2 separate regions of the Homo sapiens genome follow, and region 1 is linked to region 2. The links come from fine-mapping of genetic effects on gene expression. A gene starts in region 2. The other region holds a variant in brackets. All regions are shown on one strand. Distances are between the middles of the regions.

Region 1 (14,879 bases), 88 kb before region 2:
CAAAGGCGCGGAGCAGGCGCCTCGGGGGCCGACGACGGACGCAGAGGGAAGGGCAGGGGAGAGAGAGAGAAAGCGCTCGCGCTACCTCGCCTGGCGCTACCTCGCCGGGCGCCACTCCGCCTCCACGTCGTCCTCGCTCTCCGGTGGCGCTCCGGGACGCGGGCCCAGCCCGGGGCTGCGGGGCTCCCGCCGCGGCTGTTCTGCCAAGGCTGTCCCGCGGCTGCCGGCCGACTGCGCGCCGCGCGCTCTGGTACTGCCTCCACGCGCCGCGGTTGAGGCTCCCGTGCGCACCCAGCTGCGGAGTGCTCAGCGGCGGCGGGAGGAGCCCGGCCACTCCCCTCTCGCCCGCTGGCGGAGGGGCCGGCCGAGGGGCGGGGGCGGCGACCTCGCTGCCTGGGATTCGCCCCTCGGCGCGCGGGCAGGAACGGGAGCCACCGCCTCCGAGCCGACTCACCTCTGTCCGCCCGGTGCCGGCTTCACAGCGCCCCCCGGTGAGCGTCGCGGCGGCCTCCGCGCCTTGCGGGTTTGCGGCCCGACCCTCCGCACCCGGGGCGAGCCTGGATGGGACGAGGCTTGAGGGAAGGAGGGGCGATCGTCGCGGCCCCCACGGAAGGCAGTCTTTCTACCTTTTTTGCTTCCAGACTCACTGACATAAAATGAGAAATACAACATTTGACAACTCGAAGCCAGCCTGGGGTCACATTCCGGCAAACAGTGGGAGTAAGTCTCAATTTTTCCTCCTCCCCAAGATGAAAATTTTTGGATGCCGAGAATATCAGAAAATATTAGTTTCACAGAAAAAGAAAAAAATTATACTGAGTGGTGTGGTGTGTCTTCATTTACAAGACTTTTAGTATCTTTTAAATTACTTAATCTCACATTGTGGGAAATAGACACTGGCCAATTCTTTGTGTTATAAATACATGAGAGGTAGTTTAAAAGAAATTTCAAATACCCATACGTATTTGAATAGAGTGTATTAACAGGTCCTGAGTAATGATCAGTGATGGGGTATATTATACAGGCATGTAGGGGCCAGAGAATCAGGACACCCCCCCTACACACACACACACACCTTCTCACTCAAGCCCTATTGCCTCATTGGAGAATTTAGAACAATCCTCTTGACCCAGGTCCTGGTTTCTTCATCCTCGCACAGGGAAGGGTGCGCATTCAAACTTACTCACTGGGTGAGATGAGGATTACTTGGCTGAGGTGTTAAAAGCACTGTAGACACAGTAATTATTACTCATGGTTCTAACTACTTTATCCTATAATGAAATAAATTGCCATAAATGGGCCAGGTTTAAATGGACTGACCTGTATCTGGAAACTGTCACTAAAGTGAGGTGAACCAAAGAATTCAGACCATATATAGTAACTGTTCCCACTGGCATAAGAACCACAGGCGCTGGGATTTGTTAAATGCCACTAGTAGAGTTTGGAAAGGTGGGACCTTCACAGACTATATCTGCTGGGAACTGTCTCATCATTGATGTCACCATCAGCATCACTTCAGATGTACAAGTGGTGTGATAATGGGCGAAACTAACACATACTGGGTACCAGGGACTGTTCTTTGTTTAATCCTCACAAAAAGCTCTGAGGTAAGTTTCTCTCATTATCCTTGTTTTACAGACCAGCAAAGCCAAGGACAGAGAGGTCTTCAGGGAATACATGGCTATGGTGGTTTGAAGACTCCCATTAGAGAGTGGATATTAATTGCCCTCCTTTTGAATATGGTCTGGACTTAGTGATTTGATTGTAACAAATAGAATACAGCAGATGTGATGCTATGTGACTTCCAAACCTAGGTCATAAAAGGAGATGAAGTTTTCACCTGGCTCTCCCTTGGGACACTCACCCTTGGAACCCAGCTGCCATATTGTGAGGAAGCTCAAGCCACAGGGAAGGCCATGTGTAGGTGTTTGGGCTGATGGTGCCAGCTGAGGACCTGGTCTACTGCCAGTACAACTTATATCAAGCATGTGAGTTGGCGAGCTTTTGAAAGAACTCCAGCCACAGTCACTGACCACGCTGCCTGAGAGACCTAGAGAGAAAACCTAGCTGAGCCAAATCAGGCCCCGGAAACGTAAGTGATAATAATAAAAGATTGTCATCTGGGTGGTTGTTACATAGCAATAGACACCTAGAACAGTGACAGAGCTGGAATTTGAACCCAGATAGTCTGACTCTATAGTCTTCACTATCAAGCACACTACCTCAGACCTTGATAACCTAGCATAATGAAAACCCTGGAGATCCCAGCCTTCACAATAGGCAACATATGAACCTGCTACCTGGTGACGTGTGTTAGACTCACTTCTCCATTTTGCTTGTCTGAGTTTAGGTTCCCAAGTGACTGCTTATAGCAGTTTGGCAGTTCATGGAACTTCTGACCTCTACTGTCCAGTTCAGCTTTTCAAAAATAGCAGAAATGCAGATGGCAGGTTCATGAATATAAGATGTATACAAATTGAAGAGTGGGGGAATTCTATAAACTTTTGATCTTGGAAGGTGGCCAGATTTTAGAAAAAGTAGGTTTGAGACAACTATGTGCTGAGTAGGTCTATCAAAATAGCTAGCTACTAGAAGTAAAGTTTTGAAACTCCTGACTCAAGAAAGGGATAGGACACAGTTATGTCAGAACAGTTCGGCCTCTAGAAGGACCTCGCATAGTGAGGACAATTAAGACTTTCTCCATGATTTTAGCAAGTTCAAAAAAGAAAATAATAGAAACTGTAGAACTTATCCTAATAAACACTAAGAAAATGAACCAAGTTATTAGCCAAAAATATTTCTAGAGAAAAATCATGCTTCTCTTTTAAAAATACTGTTTACCTAGTTTTCATAAATCTCAAAACCCAAGTTTCTGAGGACATACAGGTTTTAAAACACTTTTACCTTCCTGGCCATTTTTTTCAAAAACCAATCAATCAACAACTTTTGAAATTATAAAAAGCAGATTAAAGTTATTCCCACAATTGTCAAGAATAGATAATAGGCTGGGCGCAGTGGCTCACACCTGTAATCCCAGCACTTTGGGAGGCTGTGGCAGGCGGATCATGACGTCAGGAGTTCGAGACCAGCCTGGCCAATATGGTGAAATCCCATCTCTACTAAAAATACAAAAATTAGCCAGGCGTGGTGGCACGCTCCTGTAGTCCCAGCTACTCAGGAGGCTGAGGCAGAAGAATCACTTGAACCCAGGAGGTGGAGGTTGCAGTGAGCCAAGATCACGCCAGTGTACTCCAGCCTGGGTGACAGAGCGAGAGTCCATCTCAAAAAAAAAAAAAAAAAAGAATAGATAATAAATCCATCAACTACAAAGGCATTTTTTACTTTCTCCTCAATCTATTTGGAGGAAACAGAAAGAAATAAAAAGAAGTAGAAAACTATTATTGAGATTTAGGGTGAAAAACATAAATTATCAAATTACAAGAGTGCAATAAAAGAATACAAGAAGTGTGCTTTGCCTCAATGGAAACATGCAACAATTTAAATTCATTCAATTGAAATCTTGCCATCCTTGTGGAAAATACAGAAGTAAAAGCATATCTCTATGTATCCCAGGAAGGTAATTACCACTAGGCATGTAAGACTTATTTTTTCTTAGTTGGTTTTACTTGAGCCCTTTCAAGAAAATTAAAAGGAGTTCAACATTGACAAGAAGACTGACGAAAGAACCATATGACTGCCTTTTGGTGTAGCAAACATAAAAGTGGACTGGAAGTCATACTTTTAGATTTTCTCACTGGCTCTGTCTTCATTCAACTAAGTTTATGAAGCGGCTCATACTGTTTGTCCTTAGGTATTTTACATCATGTTGAATGT[G/A]TTAAAGACTCTATCTTTAAAATTCTCAGTCTTTGTTTTTGCTATATTTTGTCTCTCATCTACCCACCCAAACAGTTTTCACCTGCTTTACTTATCTTTTTTTAAAAAATAAAATAAAGACAGGATCTCGCTCTGTCACCCAGGCTGGAGTGCAGTGGCACAATCACAGCTCACTGTAACCTTGAACTCTTGAACTCAAACAATCCTCCCACAATCCTCCTGCCTCAGCTTCCCAAGCAGCCGGGACTACAGGTGCATGTTACCATACCCGACTAATTTCTTTGTATTTTTTGTAGAGATAGGAGTCCCACTATTGTTCCCCAGGCTGGCCTTGAGCCCCTGGCCTCAAGTGATACTCCTGTCTTGGCCTCCCAAAGCACTAGGATCACAGGTGTGGGTCACTATTCCCAGGCATTACTTATCCTTTCAAACTAAATTCGGTTTTCACCTATTCCTGACCATCATCTTGAATTAGATTCTGCTTTCTTTCGTATGGTAGCATCTGAATGCCACATCCTCTCAGTACCTATTAATTTGCCCCAGGTCATGAAATCTTTTTATTCATCCTCTTCTGGATGTTTGACTTCTCCAACTAGATAGTAGGCCTCGAGATAAAACTAGTCAATCAGTTCGAAAACACCAGGACTGAGATAACATCAGTTTTAGAGAGCTGACTATCCTAGGAAATATTCTAAATGCTCTACATATGTGTTAACTCGTTGAAGCTGCACAGCAGCCCAACGAGGTAGGTTATATTATAATCCCATTTTAGAGATGGTGAAGCTGAGGCAGGCAACTTACGCTGAGTGTGGCTGCCTCTCCTGCCTCCTTTCCACCTCCTCCACCTCTTCCACCTCTGCTACCCCTGAGACAGCAAGACCCACTCCTCCTTTTCCTCCTCCTCTTCAGCCTACTCAGCATGAAGAGGATGAGGATGAAGACTTTGATGATCCATTTCCACTTAATGAGTAGCAAATATATTTTCTCTTATGATTTTCTTAATAACATTTCCTTTTTCTCTAACTTACTTTTTTTGTAAGAATACAATATATGATACAATATAAAATATGTGTTAATAGACCATTTATGTTATCCATAAGGCTGATATGTCAACAGTAGGCTATTACTAGTTAAATTTTGGGGAGTCAAAAGTTATACGTGAATTTTTGACTACATGGAGGGTCAGCGTCCCTAATCTCCAAGTTGTTCAAGGGTCAAGTGTACTGTATTATTTCTTTAGCATATGTCTCTTAGTTTAGGATAGTCCTCCAAATGCAGTAAGCACTGAGTTAGCTATTTCTTAAATAGCTTCATACAAAATAAAATATTTTAAAATATATTTAAAGAGTGCTTTAAAAATAAGTGCTTCATGTTTAAAGTATTATTTGAAATTCAGATTAGGTATTACAAAAAAAAATGTTTCTATAGCATTGTCGGTGTCCAAAACTCAATGGTAAAAACACAACTCTTATTCTAAGTATTTAACAAACTATAGATAAATTACATCAAGAATATTTGAAGGTAAAAAGACCGATGGAACTTATCCCAGGCAGGGAGAAAATTTACTAAAGCTATTTGAGGATAAAAAGAGTAATTTGAAAAGCTCACAAATAGGGTCCCTTTTAGGTACTGTACTAGACTATTTGAAAATCAAAAACAATTCTTTATTTTAAAAAAATGTAATTTGAGCACTAAAATCAGGCAGTGAAAAAGTATAATTTTTCTCCACAAAATGCATTTCTCTACAGCTCAGAGTACTCTGAGCCACAAATAAATTATAGACCCATTGCCAGGAAATTTAAATTGCCTAAATTTTTTCCCTTGACATTTTATAATTTAGCATTCTGTCATTTCAACTAGTAAAATAGTTGTCTCTTATTTCTTCTCATGCTACAGCAGGTTAGTACTATGATGGCAAAACCTAGCTGTGAAACAATAAATCAATCTGAAAAATGGCTAGACTTTTTCCCAATCTTTTTAAAAAATCATTTTCATTTTTCTAATGATAACTGGGGAGCTGTCACCTCATTGCTGGGGAGACCCTAGGAGTACTGCAAGGAAAAGCAAATATTATGGCAAAGGAAAAAAAATATTGGCCACCTATACCAAATGAAAAGTAATTTAGCAAACATATGACGTAATAGTCTGTTTCTGCTTCAGTCCCTAAAACTAAATCCATATATTTGATCTGGTGCATACATTCATCACAGGTGTTAGCATATGAAAATGCTGTAGAGAAAGATAATTGTGTGTAACTCAAAAATATCCTATTGTATTAACAACCAAAATGGCATAACTCTAGGTTTAGGGACCATTGACAGAATAAACCAAAATTTAAATTAGAAATATAAGCAAAAGGTTAGTTGCCCATTATTTCAGCTGCATTCTCAATCTTGACATCTGTACGACATGAGAAACTCCATGAGGGTGGAGTTTGGTTCACTATTGTGTTCTCAGAGCCTAAGAACATAGAAAGTACTCAATAGTGTTAGATTGAGGAACTAATTTCATGAGTTATTATTATGTTAGGTAAATCAAGTTAGCCTATAATCTCTGCCAAGAATTTCAGATATCTCATTAAAGACTTTCCAGAGCGCAAGGTAGGACAAAAGCAGTTCTTGCTGATGGAGTTGCAGGAATGATGTTCTTAAACTTTGAATAAAGCTGGAAAAAGTTTATAGAGAGTAGCACCAAAGCACAGCCCATCTCATGCAGAGGAAGACTCATACCATGGAGGTCAGGGTGTTGACAAGCAACCCAACTCCCCAAGACAAGCATGGCCTTTGCTAAATAAAGATGCCTGCATAATCCTTCCCATTAGACACATGCTATACTCTGGGTATTTTTCCTGAAACCCATTCATGCCAATATGAGTAAGAGAAGAGAGCAGAAGCTTGTCTTACATTCTTATGGGCCCTCTTGCCAGGCCCCAACCTCATCTGTCCCCAGCCCCCCTCTCAGTGACTGGGAGTGCTACAAAGTTCCCATAGATCTTGAGTCTGGACCTGAGATAATCTTGACACAGCACATAGGCCCCAAACGTTTTCCCCTCAGGGCCATTGGGTCTATAAATTGCTTCAAAAAGTCATTCGTTCCTAGTCTCTTCAAAACTCTTATCTACTCCCTGAGGGGTTCCTTCAAAGACCTGCATGTTTCTTCAAGTCCACAGTTTCATTAAATTGAAAATCATGTTTTATAATTTTATAGTTTGCCTTATAAATCTTTATCAGTCAAAAGCAGCTATCACCCTGAAGGTTTACCCTGGGCAGGGGAAGAAGAATCTCTTTATTTTTGGTACATAAGTTCCTTGGTGCCTAAATACTTTTAGTCCCACTGGGTAACTTTGATGGGTGTTGTAATTGTTCTAGATTATCAGACATATAACAGTCTCAACCCTGAGGACTTCTTCCATTCTAGTGACTTGTGATCAGGCACCACTACCCCAGGGCCAAAGAGTGAAGTAGATGAAATTTGTCCTACATCAAGAAGTATTTACTGAGTATTCCTGAGGACTTCTTCCATTCTAGTGACTTGTAATCAGGCACCACTACCCCAGGGCCAAAGAGTGAAGTAGATAAAATTTGTCCTAAATCAAGAAGTATTTACTGAGTATCTATTTAGTCCTGTGCTAGCCCTGTCACTACAACAAGATGGTAAACATGACGGTCATGGTCTGTGACTTCCTAGAAGGTAGGGTCTAGCTTCAGGTCTTTGTCTTCTTGGATATACTCCCTGTTCCTTTGTAACGTCCCCCCAGTCCCAAGGCAACGAGGACCCTGATGCTGCTTCCAGGCTCCCCCAGGCCTCACCAGCCCTCTTGACCTCTCGTGTCGTTCCAAGTGTTTTTAAATCAGTAATGTGCAACCTGGGGCTCAAGGGCTACAGCACAATCCAGGATTTCAATTCTGAGTAAAAGATTAGAAAACGGCCTTTATGGTCCTCTTTTTCAAACATTTAAATATTGAATTTCAAATATTCAAAATTTAGTAACTAAAAGTCACTCATCAACACTTTTCTAGCCAATCAAATAAAAAAGAAACTACTTGAATTGCCTTTTAAACTGTGGCCCACTATGAACTTTCAGATTTCAAGCTATATTTACTTCTTTTCATACAAATAACTTTCAAGTTTTGTAATAATAAATGAGTATTATTTTTATAATCAGGAAAAAATAATAAAGCTATTTTCATCTTGGACAAAATATGTGGCCTGCAAATTTTTGTTTTTCTGAATTGGCCCAACTGAAAACATAAATAAATAAATATTGCTTGAGTGGTTTTTTCTAATACCCTTCCATCAGAACATTTCAGTACTTGGTGATTTTTCCCGTTAGGTCATGTTAGAGACTGGCAAATCTAATAACCAACTTATGCTGAATGAGGGTTTATACTAATCACCCACGGAGAACATTTGCTTTGAGTGCAGGTCCTTGGATTTCTTTATTGCACTCTTTTCCAGAAGAGATTCTTCTTTCCATATCATGAAGTCATGTGTCCAAGGTAGTAGGCAGGGTGGGAGGCATCGGTAGGAGTACTGGGGGAAGTCTCCCCATTGCAGGCTTGGTGGTTGGCAATGAGGGCCACTTCAAAGGAGAATTTCAAAGAAGAAACACAATCTGCCAAGGGCGATGCATCCAAGATCCTTGGGCCAGTTTGATGAGCTTGCCTTAATGCAAAAAAGAGAATAAAGTCAAGATTTTAGGTAGAGCTGATAGAGATGGGGGAGGGGGTGGTGCATGTATCTGCTAGAGCCTTCAAAAATGGCTGGCCCACTACATATATGTGAGGATTTATATATGGTGTTATGGACTGCATGTTTATGTCCTCTCAAAATTCATATGTTGAAACACTAACCCCCAGTGGGATGGTATTAGAAGGTAGGACTTTTGGGAGGTGATTAGGTAGAACCCCCATTATGGGAGTAGTTTCCTTATAAGAAGAGAAAAACCAACGTTCACTCTCTCAGCCACGTGAGGATATAGCAAGAAGGTGGCTGCCTACCAACCAGGAAGCAAGCCCTCACTGGACACCAGATCTGTCAATGACTTAATCTTGGACTTCTCAGTCTCCAAAACCATGAGAAATAAACATTGTTTAAGTCACCCCGCCTATGGTATTTTGATTATAGCAGCCCAAACCAATACATATGAAATCTTCAAACTCCAAACCAGCTGTTTCCTAAGCTAGTTGCTATTGCAAACAACATAGTTCTACCTGGTTTCTGTTCAATAGTTTATCCATAACTTCTTGCCTTTGAAATAAATTCTGGAACTTAAAGATTATACCCCCTCCTACCCCTATCACTGAGATGTCCAGGTGAACTCTATCTTCATTAGTAACCTCAGTGTGTGATGGGCATATCAAAGTCTTAAGTATTGGATGACGCTTTATAGTATACTATATGATAAATATATTTTTGGGAAAAAAAGATTGCTTTTATAATATAAATAAGTAAAGTTTTAAGAAATCAGTTTGGTAGGTGGAAGTATCCAGAAATTTGAGCTATGATCTTCTGGGAGAAGGGGGCTCTATCTGATCAGAATTTAGGGGTGACAAAGTGAAATTTGTATGTTTATTGAAAAAGAAGCCTGTATCTTAACAGCTCTCTACCCAGCAGTCAAGTTTTTTAAAGTTTAGTATATGGTTTCTGTCTACTTTCTCACTTCACTTTCACACCCCAGTCCTTTGCTCTTATGACTACATTAAAACTGATTTTGCCAAGGTCTGCAGTGATCATCTGTCAGTTGCCACATCGTTTCTTTTTTCTTTTTCTCTTTTTTTCTTGAGATGAGGTCTCACTCTGTCACCAAGGCTTTTTGTGTACAGTGCAGTGGTACAACCCCAGAATCAAGCTATCCTCCCGCCTCAGCTTCCCAAGTAGCTGGGACTACAGGCACACGCCACCATATCTGGCGGCTAATTTTATTTTTTGTAGGGAGGAAGTCTCCCTATGCCCAGCCTGGTCTTGAACTCCTGGGCTCAAGTGATCCTCCCACTTCAGCCTCCCAAACTGCTGGGATTACAGGTATGAGCCACCGCGCCCCACCAGTTGCCACATCTTAAAGGCAGTTTTGGGTCCTCGTAGCATTTGACTCCTCTGACACTTGGCATCCTACTGCCTTCTTTTTCTTTTTCTTTCTTATTTATTTATTTATTTATTATTTATTTTTGAGATGGGGTCTCTCTGTGTCACCCACGCTGGAGTGCAGTGGCATGATCTCGGCTCACTGCAACCTCCGCCTCCGGGGTTCATGCGATTCTCCTGCCTCAGCCTCCTGAGTAGCTGGGATTACAGGTGTGTACCATCATACCCAGCTAATTTTTTTTTTGTATTTTTAGTTGAGACAGAAAACATTACCTCCTCTGAAAAGGTCTTCTGATCCCCCAAACAAGAAAAGAGCACTTATTCAGTGCTCTGATAAAATTCTGTTGCCTACATCATGGAGTATATCACACCATGATCAAACTACCTATTCAATTATCAGTCTCTTTCACTACACTGAGACAAACTTGAGGGCAGAATCATGTCTATTTATTTTCCAATGCTGTGTGTAACCTAAGTCCTGGAATATAGTGGGCACTCAATAATGCTTGTTGCATGCATGCATGTATGCATGTGTGCACAAATGAATGAATACCAAGTGTTTCCAGTATCTTCTTTCATGGCTCCTTCATAGCTGTTATCACTCACTTTGAAAGATTGCCCCATCTTCTTATAGCAAACCCCAATAATTTTTGCATAATAGTTGTAAAAAGCAAAAATATAACAAATAGCTACACTGTTTAAAATAAAGCTGATTTTTTATTTCTAGACAGTGATTAATTGACATCTCCTGTACTTCTGCTATACACTCTCATACCTTGATGCTAAAGAATTCCCACTTCTGCAGAAACAGATGCACTAGGCTGACCCCACTCAACTTATCACTAATGTTTCATAATAACTTCTATCTCTACTTCAGAGCCAACACATATGTTTTTCTTAATTTTCCTGCAGAAATCAGTCTATAAGTATTCTAAATTTCTAAATGTTTAAGCTCAAAGAGAAGATTTATTGGGACACTTTAAATACTTATTTCTTGCTTACATGGGCTTGAATGATCACAATGACTCAGGATCAATTGTATTTCATCTTTTCAGTACTTATTTCACAGCTGAGCACTTCTCAGAGTTATGAACATGAGTCCAGTTTTTGACAAGCCACAGCAAAGGCCAAAAGAATGAGCAAAATTATCCACTCTGAAACCCACATGGGACAGCAGGAAGTAAATAGACAGCATCTGCCATGGCTTATTACAGCATACATGTTACACTAGGCCCCAAATCAATCCCAAAATGGAAGTCTTGGGTTATGGGTCTTTCACCACAGGAAAGCAACATACACATATATTCAACAATAACACTTCATAAATCTCTGCCCCAGTCACCGAACTTTATCTCATGTGGTGCCAATAAGAAAGAGGAATATCTTAAAACAGCAGGAGGAAATTACAGTTTCACATACAGAATCCTTCAATATCACTATAGAGACATCTTTTTACACAAGTAAAACATGGAACTATCTTCCTTAGGGTGAGTCCAAAGTGTCTGACACAAAAATAGTGTCTGATAGACTTCATGTTTTGAAGTTTAATTCATCACTTAAAAGGAGGTAAACTAGAAGAAATTAAGTTATTTATAAAACTGTAGTTACATAATAGGCACCACCCAGGGCATCCTGAATGAGGATAGAAGAATATTATATGGCCAAGGACCATACATGGTAGGGGTAGGGTTCTGAATCTGGGATTGACAAGCTTTATGCCAAAGTGTGTGTGGTTGCGTGTGTATGCACCACATAAACACACATAGATGTACACAGGCTCACTCACAATCATGGTACGTGTGCATTTTTCTCTGCGGAAAGCATTTTGACCATCCCTTAGATTCTCCCAAAAGGCCTTTGACTCACAAAATGCTACAAATCACTCCTCCATAGCAAATATTTCCCACATTTATAAGCCAGGGGATGCTGCTATCAGGTGAGATTCAAAATTATTGGACATGTGATGATGAAAAACACATTACTGGAGTACAGAAGCATTGGTGCGAAGCAGACAGGACGTGCCCACTCAGATGGGAGTGAAAGGGAAAGTGACTTGCAAATTAATAAAGTAATGCTGTCCAGCGTTCCGCTCTAGAAAACTGTTATCTGAGATGTTTTTGTAATCTTGAACCCCCTATTTTGGTCAGGGCCCAATTAAGAAAACAGAAACCACTGTAGGTGTCTCAAACGGGTTTAATGCAGGAACTTGTTTTTTGGTGTTTTTGGTTTGTTTGGTTTGGTTTGGTTTGGTTTTGAAACAGGGTCTCGCTCTGTTGCCCAGGCTGGAGTGCAATGGCACAATCACAGCCCACTGCAGCCTCAACCTCCTTGGCCCAAGCAATCCTCCCACCTCAGCCTCCCAAGTAGCTGGGACTACAGATGTACGCCACCACACCTGGATAATTTTTTAGTTTTTTGTAGAGACAGGGTCTCACTTTGTTGCGTAGGCTGGTCTCAAACTCTTGGGCTCGAGCAATCCTCCCGCCTCAGCCTCCCAGATTGCTGGGATTACAGGCATGAACCACCATGCCTGGCCAAGAACTTGTCATACCTGTGATGGAAGAAGCAGAACCCAGGAATTAAGAAGTGGGGTAACAGAAAGAATAACAACAGTCAGAAGCCACTAACTCCCCCAGGGCTGGAGAAACTCAGGGAGAAGATGGTGTTACCAAAGCCTGGAAGATAGGAGAAGTCAGAAGCACAGTGCGGGGCATTCCTGACAGATGCTGAGACAATGAAGGGAGGGGCTGTTCGCCAGCAGCTAAAATCATAGAGGAGAAGCAGCCACTGCCAGAGACACCATCAAAACAGGCAGAGAGGAGGTGAAATTCCCTGGCTTCCTCCCTCTTCCCACTCTCCAGTCTTCTGTTTATGCTTCCCTTTGGTTCAGCCTATGTGGAAGCCAGAGGGCAAGGGAACTGGAAAATGCAGTCCCCTGTGATAGACAGCAGAGCAGGGGAAAGGCCAGAGCAACCAGGGACATCACCAGCACATTCCCTTTTATGAAGATGATGTTGGGATGGGTTTGAAGAGGAAAGCCAAATCACTATGGGATTCTTCATTGATATGGAGTGGGAAATGGAGGTGAAACAAAGAAAGACAGGGAGGAAAAAGGGGGTTGGCAAAGATTGAAAATAAAGAAGAAAATGAGAAGAGGAGTAGTGGAGGAAAAGGTGCAAGGGAATCTCTCCAAGGTTGCTGGGACAGCTGCTCTGATTAGAGGCTCCATTCATACTCCAGGAACAGCAGTAGGCTAGAATAGGCCGATAAAAGAATTAGAGAGCTGCAAGCAACCTTAGGAACCAGTAGAGAACTAAAATCCGTAATTTGATGTTACTGAAGTTTGTTTAGATTGAATTCATTATTGATGGAAATTAATGTGAATTTAATTCTCTCCTGTCAAAATGGAATTTAAATATCTTTCAAGAAACTTATGAAGGGATTTCAGAAAGCCAAATCACTGCAGGCCCTTCTGTTCAGCACAAAGGGAAAAAGAACTGAGAACAAACAAAGCAGCAGAAAAAATGTGTGTGGGGGGATAGGGTGTGGGAGAAAAGAGCCCAAGGGATTTCTTTAGTAATGTTTGTTTATGGCTGTTTCAAATTAAGGAACTAATTTTGGATTGGGGAATAAATAAAGTTCTTTGAGAAAAAGAAGACTATTGCTAAGAACACAACGCCGCCTAGAGTTAAGGGGGAAAAAAACCTCTAATCACACTTAAGTTGGCTTGTTTATTTTTCTGATGTTAATGTGTTTGTGAAAAGAACCCAACTCTTGCTATATTTCTTAATGTTTCCTGTTTGGCTGCTCATCCAGATAAATAACCAGCACCTCTGCCTGCTTTCCTTACTCAAATCTTTGATGAGACCATCTTTTCAGAAGAGGCAGGTGCAGCACCTTTGGAACCTGCATTAACTCTCCCAGCAGGTCAGTAGTAATTCAAAGCCCATACTATACTTCCTGGGTTCCATGGACTCTACTTCATGGGCTGGTGCATGGGATTTTGCCAGATGATTAAAGATGTCTTGGCCCAGCAATATGCTTTGGTTAAGAGCTTAATAGAAGAAAGTCCTTATGAAAACAATCAACTTTTAAAAGGCCAGTTATCTGGTTTGAAATAGAACCTTCAAAGTGGGATTGCTAGAGCGCCCGCCCTGGCATACCTGAGCTGTGGCTGAGGAGTTTGTACAAATGACATAGGATTGTTGCTGGCTTTTACTGAGCTGTGCTCAGCAGCATAAGAAAGGAAGCAGAGGCCTGTCTGAAGCTATAAAGTGTTTCATGAAATAATTTTGCCAGTATGAAGACTTCATCCAGGAATAGTTTTTGTTTTTGTTGTTTGAGCCACCCAAAGAGAATATTGCTATGAGAAGTTTCCCGTTTAATATTCAGTCTCAACCAAGTTATTAATAGAAAGTAGTTCATGGCAACCATTTCTAATGTGCTGATAAATGCCTAATATTACAACAGCCAATGAAATATTGATCTTCTTATGTGGATTTTCTTAAAATAGTCGCTTTGGTCCTACCTTTTAGAATGCTGAAAATGTGCCATTTCTGAAATACATCTTCTTAGCCATTTTCGTTGTAGCTTGCAGGCCATATTTTTCAAATTCATGAATGCATGAATCCATGCTAATTCAAAGAGATGTTGGTACTGCAGAGAGCACAAGGTGCTATTCCCACTTTAAGGAGTTTATGATAATCCGCTAAATCACCAATCTGAGTTATCAGTTCAATCCTTTTTTCTTCTCTACCACTAAAGCTCCTTAAAGGTAATCATTATAATATTGACAAGTTATTAAATGCCTACAATAATAAGCCAGGCACAATACTGACTTCATTTAATGCTCACAAGAATCCGAAGTGATAGATAAATTAATCATACCCCTTTTAGAGAAATGGAAGTTGAGTTTCAGCTAGATTAATTTCCCAAGAGTTACATAATTTGTATGCAGTGGG
Region 2 (16,159 bases):
CATTCTCTCAGAGTTGAAGAGGCAGAGTTGAGAGTTTGGTCAGAATTTACGGGGCAGAGTACCAGGAAGAAGACTGCAAAGGGCTCCCCTTGATTCTTCAGCTGAGTACTGAATAGTCCATGTTTGCAAAGGAACTACTCAAAGATGTGGGGAGGACTCACTAAAGAGGAGCAGGTGGAAAAATTTCTGGAGCTCACACAAGGCTAGGCATAATTTATATTCTCAACAGCCAGAGTGGAAAAAGCTCTTTATACTTGATGAAAGCAGAAATTAGAAATTGTTAAATTGGATAAAAAAGCAAGACCCAATTATATACTACAGACAAGAAACACATTTCAAATATAAATAAATAAGTAAAAAGTAAAATATTGGGAAAATGATATATCATGCTCACACTAATCATAGACACCTGCAGTGGCTATATAAATATAAAACAAAGTAGACTTCAGAGCCAAAAATATTAACAGAGATAACAAGGGTCATTTCATAAAAATAAAAGGAAAATCATCAAAAGGACAAAACAATTATAAATGTTTATGCATCTAATAACAGAGCTTCAAAATACATGCAATGAAATGTGAAAGAACTGAAAGAAGACAGACAAATCCAGGATTATAGCTGAAGATTTAAATATTCCTCTGATAATAGATTGAATAAATGGGAAGAAAATCAGGAATGATATAGAAGACTTGGATAATACTATCAACCAACTTGACCTCACTGAGATTGCAAAAACTCTTCACCCAACAGGAGCAGAGAAGACATTCTTTTAAGTGTCTTAAACATCGACCAAAACATTCTCAGCCATAGATCAAGACTCAATAAATTTTAAATAATTCAAATAACAAAAAAGTATGTTATCTAACCACAATGGAATTAAATTAAAAATGGATATGAGGAAAATATTGGAAAATGATCCAAATGTTTGGAAAACAAAAGTCACAATTCTAATTAATTAATTAATTAATTAAAACCCAAACATAAATCAAAGAAGAAATCACAAGGGAAATTTTAAGTAGAATAAATGAAAATTAAAATACAGCATATCAAAATTTGTTTGATGTAGTTTAAGCAATGGAAAGGAAGAAATATGCAGATGCTTATATCAGGAAAGAAGAAAGATCCAATCAATGACCTAAGTTTCTGCCTTAAAATATATAAGACCTGTAATCTCAGCACTTTGGGAGGCCGAGGCAGGCAGATCACGAAGTCAGGCATTCCAGACCAGCCTGGCCAACATGGTGAAACCCTGTCTCTACTAAAAATACAAAAATTAACTGGGCGTGGTGGTGCGTGCCTGTAATCCCAGCTACTCAGAGGCTGAGGCAGGAGAATCACTTGAAACCGGGAGGCAGAGGTTGCAGTGAGCCGAGATTGTGCCACTGCACTCCAGCCTGGGTGACAAAGCGAGACTCTGTCTCAAAAAAAAATATATATATATATGAGAAAGAAAGCAAACTGAAACAGAAGTAAATAAAAGGAAACGAAGAGTAGAAGTCAATGAAACAGAAGGCAGAAACACAATAGAAAAAAATCCATGAAACCAAAAGTTTGTTCTTTGAGAATATAAATAAAATTGATAAACTTTTAGTAAAACTGTCCTGGGGGGGGAAAAAGAAGACACAAACTACCAATATCAGAGTGGAGAGAGGTAAGATTATTACAGATTTTCCAGCTATTAAAAGAATAACTGGGATAAAAGGGAATTAAAAGAATAACTTGCTAAAAGGGAATATTATAAACAACTTTATGTATATAATAACAGCTTAGATGAAATATATAAATTCTTTGAAAGACAGAAACTGGCAAAGCTCACTCAAGAGAAAATAGGTAACCTAAGTAGTCCTAGATCTAATAAATTGAATTTGTAGTTTAAAAATTTCCCACCAGAAAAAAACTCCAGTCAGAGATTACTTCACTGGTGATTTTTTTTTCAAACATTTAAGGAAGAAATAATACCAATTCTACCCAAGCTTCCAGAAGACATTACAAGAAAAGAAAACTGTAGACAAAGTGTGTCCAGCCCATGGGCTGCATATGGCCCAGGACAGCTTTGAGTGCGGCCCAACACAAACTCTTAAACTTCTTAAAACGTTATGAGATTGTTTTAAAGCTCATCAGCTATTGTTAGCGTTAGTGTGTTTTATGTGTGGCCCAAGACAATTCTTTCAATGTGGCCCAGGGAAGCCAAAAGATTGGACTATGCAATGATCCTCTCTTTTTTGGAATTCATGTTTAAGTCATCAAACTTATTTCCTCTATAGCTCTCTGAGCAAGTTATTGCTTTTCTCATAAGAGCAGATAAGATTTTTAGTAAAGCAGAATGGTTATGGGCTTTGTTTCTGGAGCTCAGACAGTCCTTAGTTTGAATCCCAAATCTGTCCTTACCTCTGATAAGCCTCACTAAAGCTCACTAAACCTCTGTCCCCTTATCTGCCAATTGGAGATAATCATGATATTTAATCCTATGGAGTGCTGTGAGGATTAACTAAAACAATGCATTTGAAGTTCTTGGCACTATGTCTGGCATGGAGGTATATGACTATGATTTGTAAATTGCAATGCTTCTGAGATGGCAGTAGAGGGAGCAGAGTCAATGGGAACTGGACTTCAGAAAATTAGCAAGATTGATATTAAACCCTTTTACAAGACAATGTTCCTGTTCTGATGGAGCTAGAGCAACCTGCACACAGATGAGTCGATGAGATTCACACCAGGCCATCTTATCCCAATAATCCTTGCTGTCCCACTCATGTGGTACTAGCATATGCAACCAGGGAACTCAACGCATCTTTCTGCGTGTACATATTGTCTGTCCAACCTCCAACTCCAGCTCACCCCAGTTTCCTCAGAACACTTAAGAGGGGAGAGGAGAAGTATGGTGATATCACAAAACTGAAACTAGCAAATGTTTATATTCTTTGTACAAAAATTGGGAGAAGGTGGAGCTGGTTTACCTCCCTTACAGCGGCAAGAGTGATATCCTCTCTCTTCCTCTCTCTGTTTCCCACAAAAGCAGCTCCACTGGGCAGAGTGGGAAAAGCACAATCAGAACCGATTTTGAATCCACCCTATCTTCTATTTACAACTGTGAACCTGCCTATCCCACCCAGACTCTCTTCATCTCCATTTCCGCTCTGTACAGCAAGGTGGCAGGGAAGCTGGAGGGTTAACCTGGTGAGTGCCAAAGTTACCCATAACTTGTTTATTATTCTATTATTAACAGCTATTGATTCAGCATTTAACCTGATCCCATTTCTTACATTATATCTTTGACTTTTCCCAGCAATTTCAGGTGGGACATAATATCCCCACTTTTATAGACAGGGAGTTTTGGGGTTAGAGAAGTTAGGTAACTTATATAACTTTGTGCCACTAGAAATTGACACACCAGAACTAGAAGCTACTTTTCTGAAAGTCTTTAATCTGGGATTTTCTTCTTAGCATGATGCAGCAAAAAATTAGATATAGGGCTTATCACCAGGGCAACTGGGTGGCTGTTTGAGAAAGGAGACAGGAATCTGTGGGGGCCTTTGAATTTGGAAAACCTTCCAGGGGTTTCATTTTAGCATTTGGTTTGTTCTTCATTTTACTTCGAATTTTTTTATGTCTTTGTCTCTGAGGGACTGACAAGGCCAGGGCCAGTGTAGGGTCAAGAAACTGCAGACCTGCTTATTTAGTTTTGATTCTAAAAAAGAGAAACAAATTGGACATAGAAGCGCCCTTTCTTAGATGTCTTCCTCCACTCATGAAATACAGAAGGAAGACAGAGGTTCAAGGCAGAAGATTTAACCAAGAAAAAAGTGCGTATTTGGGCAGAGAGTCCCTCATGATAGACATCTCTGGATAAACGAGTTACAGTTGGCAGCATATGGCAAATAGAGCAGAGGTTCTCTAAGTGTTACCTGCAGATCCCTGGGAGTGGTCCCCGAGATCTTTTTAGAGCATCTGCAAGGTTAAACTATTTTTATAATAATACTAATACAGTTTTGTCTTTTCACCCTGCTGACATTTGCACCAATGGTACCAAAGCAAAGGTGGGTGAAACTGTTGGGGCCTTAGCACAAAGCAAGGAAGTGGTGCCAAATTATACTAGCAGTTGTATATTTCACCACCATGCACTTACAATAAAATGCCAGTTTGACTTAAGAATGTTTTTGATGAAGCAGTAAAAATTATTAATTTTATTAAATCTCAGACCTTAAGTACACGTCTTTTTAATATTCTTTGTGATGAAATGGAAAAGGCACATATTAAAGGATGATGGTCATCTCGAGGAAAAGCACTTGCGTGATTGTTTGAGTTGCCAAGACGAGCCTGTCACTTTAAGGAAAACAACTGGTAGTATCTGCTGCCAATAATAAAACTGAGCTTTCAAGCAAAAATTAGAATTTGAGCTTGACTGCTTCCCAGTATTTAAAATACTTACATGATGAGATCAACATTGATATTACCTGACATGAATTTCTGAACACTGTATGATGAAATGTTGTATTCATTGTATGATGAAGTAGGCAGCATTTAGAAAATCTGCATACTTCAGTGGACCAATGTTTTTTAAATGACCAGTGTCTGACATTGCAAAATAATTTGTGGGTAATAGTTTCATTCAAAATATATACAACAAAAGATTTGAATGTAACAGTATACATAAAGTATATGTTTACATAAAGTATACATAAAGTATATGTTGATAAGGTTTCAGATTTCACAATGCAACTAGCCCTTCAGAAACTACCACTCATTGAGTTTTGATGTGGTATCAAAGAAGAATAATTATTTGAAAAGGTCATTATAATACTCCCCTTTTCCAACTACATAAATGTGTGAGTCCATACTTTCTTCAAATATGTCAACCAAAATAATACTTTGCAGCAGATTAAATGCAGAAACAGATATGAGAATCCAGCTGTCTTCTCTCAAACCAGACATTAAAGAGATTTTTAAAATGCCACTCTTCTCATTACGTTTTTCATGTTGGAAGATATATTTGTTTTTCTTAAAACATGTTTAACATGGAGTGGGTTTATTATTGTCATTTTGAAGGAATAAATACATATTTTAATTTTTTCTCAGATTTAAGTTTTAACACAGTAAATAAAAATTTCATCCAGAACAGTAATACACAAACATTCCTTGGGTTTGTCAACAATTTTTAAGGGAATAATGGTATCTTGAGAACAAAAGGTTTAAAAACTGCTGTGGAAGCCGCAAGGTAAGGCCCTGAAAAGGAGGAGGAGAACAAACTCTGTTTTGTACAGCAGGCACTCAACAATTGAATATGATAATGATAAGGACATGTAAAACCAGTGTGACTAACACTATGAGGCAGGAAGTGAAAAGTGCTAAATAAGTGGTCTAGATGTGCACTGTCCAACACGGCAGCCACTAGCCATATGTGGCTTGGAATGTGGCTAGTCCTAACTGACATGCCCTGTAAGTGCTAAATATACACCAGACTTCAGAGATTGAGTATGAAATAAGGAATGCAAAGTATCTTATTGATAATTTTTTATATTGATTATATGCCAAAATGTTAAGATTCTTGTATATATTGGGTTATTTACAATATTAAAATTAATTTCACCTGTGCTTTTTTCCTTTTTAATATGGCTATGAGAAAATTTACAATTACATATGTGGCTTACATTTTATTTCTCTTGGAGAGCGCTGGTTTGGACAGGAAGTATGAAGAATTTGGAGCAGGGAAACATTGCTGTGGGTTCAGGTCATCGGGAAGTCTTCACTGAGAACTATAGGATTTCACTAAGTAGGTAGGCTCAGGGAGGAATATCCAGTTGAAGAAAGCCTCGGTAGTGAAATATGAGGTTAATCTGGGCAGCTGAGGTGACTGCTTGGGTCACATCATGGGCTCTTATAGGGGAGAAAAGTTTCCTGGATAGGTTGGGACCAAACTGTACAGAACTTAAACTGCCAAGAATTTGGATTTTTTTCCTATAGGCAGTGACAGCTTCTCCAGAAGAAAATCAGACTTTGCTTAGTAGCTTATGGAATAGCCTGAAATTGGCACTTTCTTATGTAGGGTCAGAGCAGCATAAGCTCCTGGAAACTGCCTGCTCAACAAGCAGTGGGGACCAGGCCTACCTAACCAGGAAATTTACAGTGATATGGAAAGTGTGACTTTGGATTGATTGACCTATTTGGGGGTGGGTGGTAAGTTTAAGCACATGATAATGTCACCTGGGAGAGAAGAATCCAGAGGGTGTACCTGTGTGAAACCCGTCAGGGAAGAGGGAGGCAGGCCTTTCACCTTGGTATATTGCTCTAAGCATGTGTATAACCAAATTGAGTGACACTTTCTACCTTTCTTTCAGTCTGTCTGTCTGTCTTTATTTTTGTCTTTGTTTTACTATTTTTACTTTCTTAAACATTTTTATTGATTTTTTAATATACGGTGGGATTTTACTGTGTTGCCTGGGCTGGTCTCAAACTCCTGGGCTCAAGGAGTCCTTCCACTTCAGCCTCCCAAAGTGCTAGGATTACAGGTGTGAGCCACACGCCTGGACTTCTCTTTATTTTATTGAACCCCTACTGTGAATCAAGGGGTTAAGAGCTAACTACAAGGAGATGAAATGAAAAGACCACTGAAGTGGGAAGGGAAACACCTGGGCTATTATCGGGCTCCGTGGCTAACTTATTGAGTCCTCTTGGTCACCTCACTGGGTCTCTTCAGATATGAAAGAGGATTTAGCATTAGATGGGACCAAGACTTCCTCCAACTCTGTGATTCTAGAACAGGCTGATGTCACAAAGGGAGAAGAACGCACCGTAGCAACCAGGGGCAAGGCTACTCAAGGAGAGTAGGAGGAGGCTAGGTCAGGAAGGGCAAGCACTGGTGGCCTACCCAGGACTTGGCCCAACCCTCTGGGTCAGGTCACCCTCGTCGGAGTGAGCGGACCCCGCTGGAATTGGAGCCCAGTAAGGTCTATGAGTTTGGTGTTTTGATCCTGGCTACCCATCCCTTCCATCCCAGGGGTGGTTCACCAGGCTGAGTGGAGCCTTATACTAGGGAGAGAGGAAGCTGAAGAACTGGGCTCCAGGTAAGTAACTCTGCAGAGGATCTCAGATTGTCTAAGGAAACCACTGAAGAAAATGTATGCCCCGCCCCTCCCCTTTTTCCTGGCACTGCTGAGCCACCTGCAGTTGCGAGAGCCGCTGGGAGGGATAAGAGGGAAGAGGACGCCCGGTGAAGGGGCTCCAGCCTGGCAGTTTCTGCGTGTTAGCATTTCTAGAATAGAGTGGGTGGGAACTGACCCAAGTAAAGTCCCAGAGACTCGAACACTGACGCACAGGAAAGCCTCAAGTGGGAGGAGAAATGCAAATCCCCTACTGATGATGGCGTCAGCGGCTTTCTCCTAGGGACTGTGAGGGGCGCTTCTGACTTTGGACTTGAGCACTGCCTGGGACCTGTGCTGAGAGAGCGCTAGGTAAGTGGCCAGACCACACCTTCTGGCTGCCTCTTGTAAGGAGGACATGCTTATTATGCAGGATACTCTGAAGCTTTGCTTTCCCTTGGCGTTTTGACAATTGCTTCATTTTAACCTTCCTGAGGAGGCTTATTATAGAAGGAAGCGCCCGACTCCACGACCCACAGATGCGCCCTGGCACGGGTTCTCCGCGGAAACCGCTCCGCAGGCCCGCGCCACGGTGCCCGGGCGAATCTCCCTGCGGGGGCCAGGGGAGCTGCGGCGGCTGCGGAGGTGTGTCCTCGCGGAGGCTGAAAGTGAGCCCCTCTTCACTTTCTTAGCCAGCTTCTCTAGAGCTGTGATGTCTGACTTTAGATTAGCGTACCTGGATTTCAGAAAAAAGCTTGCAGCTACGGCAGCCGGTGACTGTGGCTTTGATGGGCGCGAGTGACATTTTAGGGCAGGTCATCTCCTTTTGCAAGCTACAGGCCACAGAGCCAAAGCGGCACCACCAGCTCACAGACGGTGGGACAAAATGCCCCTTTAGTGGGATCTTCTAGGAAATGCACGCAAAAAGGACAGACAGGCACTGAGTTTTCAGAAGCAACGTCACAGTTTTCATGAGAAAGAAGTAGCCCCTAGAGAGTGAAAGCAAAGAAACCTGCTGAAGGATGTCTAAAGGCGTTCCCAGAGGCTGCAATAGAAAATGTCCTAGGACTATGTATTCCTTCTTCTTCCTTTTTTCAGCTTTGAATTCAGCTCTCCGAAAGACTCAGATCTTAGTAGTGATTTTTTTCGGTGTTTATTTTTATTTTTTTTAATTTTCCTTTTATTTTCATTTGACACACAATTGTAAATATTTATGGAATATACAGTGATATTTCAATAAATATGAACAATGTGTTATGATCAAAGGATATTCAGCATATCCATCACCTCAAACATTTATCATTACTTTGTGTTGTGAACATTCAAAATCCTCTTAGCTTTTTGAAAATATACACTAAGTTATTGTTAACCATATTCATCCTAGTGTTACAGCACTAGAACTTATTCCTCCCATCTACCTGTAAGTTTTAGTTAGAAAATAGATTTTTCATCCAAATCATAGCGGGGGTTTAACAATAGTATGATGAAAAACTGTAATGCTATTTTCAACTCATGTTCTCTGTTGTCATTAACTAAAATAAATTGATAGATAGGACAATGTTGATAGTAGCATGAGAACAAATGTTCCAATTTTGTGTGGAATATATACACATCCGATGGAATATATATACATCCGATATCTGGAAAAACAAATGGTTCAGACTCAGGAAACCTCAGGTTGTCCCTTAGAAGCCTCACACATTAGGCAGGCGTCATTTCGCCTATTTGATCTTCAAGTTTTTCCTTTTTAAAGTTGACATACTACTTATATCCACCTACCATATTCATAGCAATGTCAGGAGTGCCACTCATTCTTCATTTAACAAGCATTGATTGAGCATTTACAATATGCCTAGAATTGTAAAGTGTAAAGGTTTTCATAAATATAAAATGATATGCAAATAAAACATTACTTCTTTTCCCACTTGCTTTCTCTTTAGCAAAACATTGGCAACACGTTTTTTTATAAATTTTAAGTCATTTACCAGGAGCTCAGGGAAAAGGTGCTCAAAATGATTCTACTTAAAACCCAAAGAATATGTATATGAAATATATGAAATTACCCTGGTGTTCTATAGGCAAAAGGAAACCTTAGCCTATCTATGAGATATGTTGAAATGTTATGGTGATTAATCATGTAAAAGGGGGTTTGGTGTTTTTACTTGACTTAGAATTGCTGAGAAAACAACCAAAAATTTGACTTTGGAAAACATAAAATGCTGTAATTTCAAGGAGGCAGCGTCATACTAATTTTCCTGAGTTAGGAAATATGTCTACAGCTTCTAAATTGGCCAGAGTGGGGTTACAAGGGGGAAATGCGTACTTTTCTTTTATGACAGGCTGCCAAATAGGTATCAAGTGTGGTTTCTTACTCCTTAAGTAACTTGAGGGTTTAACCACTATCAGATGTTTCTCAGAGACAAAAAGACTACATCCTTTAAGAGCTTTGCCCATCTATAATGGATCCTCACAGAGAGAAATGAAACACATTCACTGGTTCAGAAATATTTTTAATTTAAAAAACTGGAGCCTACGAAAATGCATACATAAAATTCTTCATGAAGCTAAGACAAAATTGGACTAGAAGTCAAGAACATAAAGCTGACTCTAGAAGCCAGACAAATCTGAAATAAAGAAAAAAGAAATTTGGCAATTTCATATAAAAGAAGCTTCTTGGGGGGTTGTTCCTCACATATAAAGTCTTAGAGGGTTTTAGGAGGTATAGTAAATGTCAAATACGTTTGCCTTCAAGTTGCTCCAAGTCTAAATGTTGAGGGGACAAGAGATAGGGAAAGAGCTTGTTGATAATAGAAATTCACATAGACAGCTGTGGGCAGGATGTGGGGTGTTTGGCAGAGTGGGAGTGAAAACTTTTTGGAGCAGGTAGAACAGGAGTTCATTTTAGAGCAAGGAAGGCTGTAGTTTAGGGGCACAGAAAGAAGGCTGCTCCCTTCATTAGGGTTGAATTATGAAAAAAAACCTTAGTGAAATTTTTGTATCCTTGGATATATTGGAATTCAGTCATAACATTGACTAATTCTAAGGAAAGAAGAAAATATGTACTAGGGCTATGAACAATATTTTAAAACTCTAATTCTACACCTTCTTTTATAGCATGTCTCAGTGGAATCAAGTCCAACAGTTAGAAATCAAGTTTTTGGAGCAGGTGGATCAATTCTATGATGACAACTTTCCCATGGAAATTCGGCATCTGTTGGCCCAATGGATTGAAAATCAAGACTGGTAGGATCAAACATATTTTCCCTAGAAGTTGATGCACAAATGTCTGATGCTCTATCCATGTGAATTTATTTTATGGTCCACTTTTTACTCAGTAGATGCATTCTTTTCAGGTAAAGAACTTTCTCAAGGATTTGAAAGCCTTCCCAAAGAAGGGGAATAATTGTCCTTTCTGGTTCCATTCATTGTAAATGAAAAGTTAATGGTTCCAGTGCTTCTTTTCTCTGTAAACAAAAACCCAAATAATTTTTCATGTATTAAAAAAAGAAGCAAATCAATTGATTGTCAGTTCTCTATCACAGACTCAATGTAAATCAATATTTTTTTCTCAGTAAGATTTATACTCTTCAAAGCTCTATTCACCTTATACCATTTAATTTTTTTCAGCCATCTTTTTTATTGTGGTAAAATACACATAACATAAAATTTACCATTGTTTTTGGTGTACTATTCAGTGGCATTACATATATTCACATTATTATGCAACCATCACCACCATCCATCTGCAGAACTTTTTCATCTTTCCAAACTGAAACTCTGTACTCTTTAAACAGTAACTCCCTAGTCCTCCACCCCCAACCCCTGGCAATCACCATTCTATTTTCTGTCTCTGTGAATTTGACTACTCTAGGTACTTTAGATAATTGGAATCACACAATATTTTTCCTTTTGTAACTGACTTATTTTGCTTAGTGTAATGTTTTCAAAATTCATTCATGTTTAACAGGTATCATATCAGAATTTTCTTCCTTTTTGAAGCTCAATAATATTCCATTGTTTGTATATATCACATTTTGTTTTATAAATGTATCTGTCAATGGACATTTGGGTTGTTCAAACATTTTGGCTATTGCTAATAACCCTGCTAGGAACATTGGTATGCAAATATCTGTTTGAGTCCCTGCTTTTAATTCTTTTGGGTATATATCCAGATGTGGAATTGCTGGGTCATATAGCAATTTTATGTTTAATATTTTGGGTAACTGTCATATAGTTTTCCACAGTGATTGACCATTTTACCTTCCCACCAGCATTGCACAATTTCTCTGTATCCTCACCAACACTCATTTTCTGTTTTTTCTTTTCCTTTTTATAATAGCCACCCTAATGGGTATGAAGTGGTATCTTACTCTGATTTTCACTTGAAATTCCCTAATGATTAGTGATGTTGAGCATCTCTTCATGTTAACAATTTAATTTTTTAAAACTTTTAAATGCTTATCACCATGTAATAGGTTTATTGTTTTAAAGTTAGTATGGTAAAAAAGTAGACATTTTACAAAGTTGTTTTCTGTTGTGTAATAATCCTTTTTTTTTTTAGGGAGGCAGCTTCTAACAATGAAACCATGGCAACGATTCTTCTTCAAAACTTGTTAATACAACTGGATGAACAGTTAGGTCGTGTTTCCAAAGAGAAAAACCTACTCTTGATACACAATCTAAAAAGAATTAGGAAGGTCCTTCAGGTAAGAATGCATTCTACTTTTCCAAAATATTTGGATATATGAGTCTTAAATTTAGTTAAAAATTAAATATGTACCCTTATATTATTTTCAAATGAAATTTAGGGGAAAATTGAGTTGTCTTACCACTTACAAATTTTGTGCTCAATTTTATTACCTAACATTTTTCATGAAATGTTGAAAATAAAATACACTAAAAGTATAGTGTATAAAATACATTACAAGTGTGTTGCATGTGGGACTTGCATGTATCTTGTTTACTAGCTATGATTCAGTTCAACAACACTGACCAGACCACAGTTTCACGGCTCTCCAGCAGCCCTCCCTTGCCTTTGTCTCTTAGGTAACAAGTTAGAGTTAGTATTGTTCTCATTCCTAAATGAGAGCATCATGAGTGAATGTATTCTTACAGATTTGGTTCAGATCTCACACTCCTTTAAAAGTGTTCTTTGGTACTCTCTGGTTCACCCAGGCAGAGCCCATCTCTGTGTGTTTCCTCAGCACCAGAACACATCGATACTGTGGCATTTAGTATATTCGACATTATTGCTATTTCTATGTGTTTGACTTCTCTCCCTATCATGAGTTCCTTGAGGCAAGGACTTTAGTGTTCAACTTTGAATTTCCAGCACCCAGCATAAGTCTGGACTTGTGGTAGATGTGCAATGTTTACTGATTAAGGGGTGAGTAAATCAAGTAAGTGAATCAGGGATCTAAAGAATTAAAAGCAGGCTAATATGGAGCTAAACCCAACAGTTCTAATGTAATAAACCCTGACCATGGACTGCTATAATATTTACTGAGTGCATACAACGTATTAAATAACAGAAAAAGTGCTTTGTGCCATTCTTCATGGAGACATTTTTAGAATCCAAAACCTACAATTAACACATTTTTAGAACATTTTAACTAGACTATAATAGAAATGTTCTTGACATTACATTTGTGAGAAGGACAAATATATTGTTTTTCCTATTGTTGTTTGGATTGCGCTGAGCTATCTTTGCCCTTGTAATCCCCTGTAAATCTGCAAGACACTTGACTAAAAACAGGACAATAGCATATTGCCGACAAAACAGGATTTTTGGCAGCATACAGCAATCTGTCTTTTATGGAGACAAATCATTTAATGGTGGCTTTATTAGCTTAGTGATCTAATCTATAAACCTAAAATGGGGATTGGCATGCCATGGCCCACAAGTCAAAAGGCCACTGCCCATTTTCATATGGCCCATGACTAAGAATGGTTTTTATATTTTTAAGTGATTGGAAAAGAATAAAAATAAAATAGATCATAAAATTTAAAATAATATTTCTGACACATTAAAATTATATGAAATTCCAATTTCTGTGTTTTATTGAAACACAGCCACACTCGTTGGTTTACATATTGTTTATGATTGCTTTTACACTACAATGGCAGAAGTTGTGATAGAGACAGCATGACCTATACAGCCTAAAATAAAAATATGTGTGTGTATTATATATGTGTGTATATATGTGTCTCATATTTACATATGATATATATGTATATCACATTTATCTGGCCTTTTATAGGAAAGTTTGCTAACTCTTAGCCTACTAGTAAAGAGTCCATAGGTCACTTTGCTAGATAAGCACAGATGGGGAAAATATTAATAGATGATGCATGGTCTTTGGAACCAAGAAGGTCTGGGTTAAAAATCTGACTCTCAAATGTGGCTTTGAGCAAATCACTTAATCTTCTGACCTGTATCTTTTAATGTAAACAAAGATAATTATTATCTACCTTTTGGAATTGTGAGGAAGTCTGGAGCTTTTCTTCTGGCAAGATGTAGGCATTCAATAAATGATTCTTATTGTTGGTAGGTAAAATAGCAGGATTTTCTCAGTGTAAATCAGGGGTAAGAAAACAACCCATCTTTTGTGGGCTGGAGGATAAGATTGTGAGGGAAGCTTCTCCTCTGGCCAGTTGTATCAGACGAACCTTGTTAAACCATCACTTCTATTTCACTACGCCACTGCTCAAAAACCTGCAGTTACCCCCAGTCACGCTTCAGCTCGAGCACAAACTCATCTGCATGTGTTAATTGGCCCTCTAGCATCTTTCCTCTTTAGACCTTTCCCAACAATCTTCCTTGAGCTCCTCCACATCCCTACCTCAGAAAAATAGATCTACTACTTGTTCCTGAACACGTCACACACACTCTTGAATGACTCAGCCTTGTCCATGACGGTCCTATGGCCAGGAATGCTCTTCCATCCCTCTTCCACCAGTCTAGTTCCCATCCATCCCTAAAGAATCTATGTAGGTTCCAGTGCAACAAGAAAACCTTCACCACATGCTTTAGTCTGTGTTCTCATCCTCCAGCCCTCCAGCAACAACTACAAGGTAAGCAGCATCTCCTTCTGTCCCTTTCATCTGTGTTGCATGTGTGTCAAACCAGGTCACAAGGTCCTTGAGGGTAAAAGGCTGATCTCCTTTTCTGACCCCCCTCCCTCACCCTCAGTACTCAATATGGTTCTAGTGCACACTAGGAATTCAAAAAACAATTTGGTGAATTAAGATATTTGAGTTGAAAAAAACACTTGCTCTTTCTTGTGCTTCCATATATATCAATTTATAAATTGTGCTTACTGGGCATTTGTATTAACAACACAGAAGCTAGTAGTAAAAATCATTGTCAGCTATGGTTTTACACCTAAACAAACCTGAGTTTTATGCTTCTTTTTAACCTACTATAATCCCATTAAGTTGTGTGTGTTTTTTGCGGGGAAGGGTGGTATGATGAGTCTTTTTTAAAAAATAAGATCCTCTCTTCCCCACAAAAAAGAAAAAAAAAATTCCCTATCAAAAGGCTGTTGACGCTGTGCTTATCTGGTTTAAATATTTTCATCCTCTGGGATTTTAAATACAAACCATGTTGACAATTACAGCAAAAAGGAGTAAACAATATGATACCTGGGGAACTAAGGGATGTATAAGGTAGATTTATTTTGGTTCTTTATAGAACAGCTGAGATCTCTAGTTTCAGTATTTTATTATTTATATTACACCTACTTCCAATAACAGTTTGGAATGGCTTGCTATAAAGGACAAAACAAAACCAGTTTCCCGATGGCAAATTCAAGAAGCTCCAAGGTGGAAGCAATAAACACCATCGTTCAGCAGCCCTTGGCCTATTTAAGGGGAGGCAGACTCACACCCAGGAGCAAGGGTTACTTGAATCCTGGCCCTGCCACTTGCAATGTGGCCCTGAGTAAGATATTCACACACTCTGGCCTCAGTTTCCTCAGCAGTGTAAGGGGCAATCACACTGGTACTTTCCTCACAGAAATGTTAGGAGTATGGAGATAATTGATTCTAAAACCTGCAGCAAGAACCATAGTCTTTTGCTAAAGGTTTGCTAAAAATAAATATCTGCCCCAGATAATTCAAGAATGCTTTGCTTTAAGAAAATTAATGGACCTTAAAAAAATTAGTGCAGTTTATTTTTAAGAGTAGTTTTAGGTTTACAGAAAAATTGAGCAGAAAGTGAAGTTCTCATATACTTCCTTCCCAGCTCCACATCCCAGTTTCACCTATTATTCATGTCTTGCATTGGTAGCATACATTTGTGACAGTTGACGAAATAATATTGATACATTATTATTAACTTACATTTCAAGACTACATTAAGATTCACTCCTTGTGTTGTATAATTTTATGGGTTTTGACAATGCATAATGTCATATATCTACCATTACAATATCATACTAGAGAGTTTCATGGCCCCTGAAAATCTCCTGTCCTCTCCAATATTCATCCTTCTCTCGCTTCCCACGGAGCCCCTGAACACTACCGATCTTTTCACTCTCTGGATTTTTCTCCCATGTGATAATTCTTTTTTTATTGATATACAATACTTTACATATTTATGGGGTACATGAAATATTTTATTCCATGCATAGAATGTGTAATGATTAAGTCAGGGTATTTGGATTATTCATCATCTTTGAATTTATCATTTCTATGTTGGAAACATTTCAAACCCATTCTTCTAGCTACTCTGAAATATACATTACATTGTTGTTAACTATATTAACCCTGCTATAGAATGTTAGAACTTAATCCTTCTATTTAACTGTATGTTTGTACCCATTAACCAGGCTCTTTTCATTTCCCTCCATCCACCCACCCTTCCCAGCCTCTGGTATCTATATTCTACTCTTTACCTCCATGAGATCCACTTCTTTAGCTCCCACATATGAGTGAGAACATGCGATATTTGTCTTTCTGTGCCTGGCTTATTTTATTTAACATAATGACATCTTGTACGATCCGTGTTGCTGCAAATGACATGATTTTATTCTTTTTATGGCCAAATAGTATTCTATTATATGTGTGTATGCATGTGTGTG

Which allele goes with the higher level. Alleles are on the strand shown, and positions count from the first base shown. SD is a standard deviation of normalised expression in the study named.
With allele A in place of G in region 1, the expression in tibial artery of the gene that starts at base 7,401 in region 2 is lower (small effect, 0.39 SD a copy in GTEx).

The links.
Region 1: its variant is fine-mapped to the expression of STAT4 in tibial artery (GTEx, PIP 0.96). The same link has a PIP of 0.9 or more in fetal neocortex.

What each region holds. Positions count from the first base shown.
Region 1 is chr2:191,230,833-191,245,711 of GRCh38, reverse strand. It overlaps MYO1B (myosin IB), which reads right to left and starts at 308. Exons shown (of 31, transcript NM_001130158.3): 1 at 86-308. MYO1B-AS1 (MYO1B antisense RNA 1) reads left to right here. Exons shown (of 4, transcript NR_186085.1): 2 at 1,639-2,092; 3 at 13,735-13,845. RefSeq lists a silencer at 1-387 and an enhancer at 1-422. The variant G/A (reference allele first, on the strand shown) is at 3,835.
Region 2 is chr2:191,142,236-191,158,394 of GRCh38, reverse strand. STAT4 (signal transducer and activator of transcription 4) reads left to right here and starts at 7,401. Exons shown (of 24, transcript NM_003151.4): 1 at 7,401-7,448; 2 at 10,191-10,319; 3 at 11,638-11,782. The coding sequence starts at 10,192. RefSeq lists enhancers at 6,982-7,061, 7,192-7,241 and a silencer at 7,712-7,761.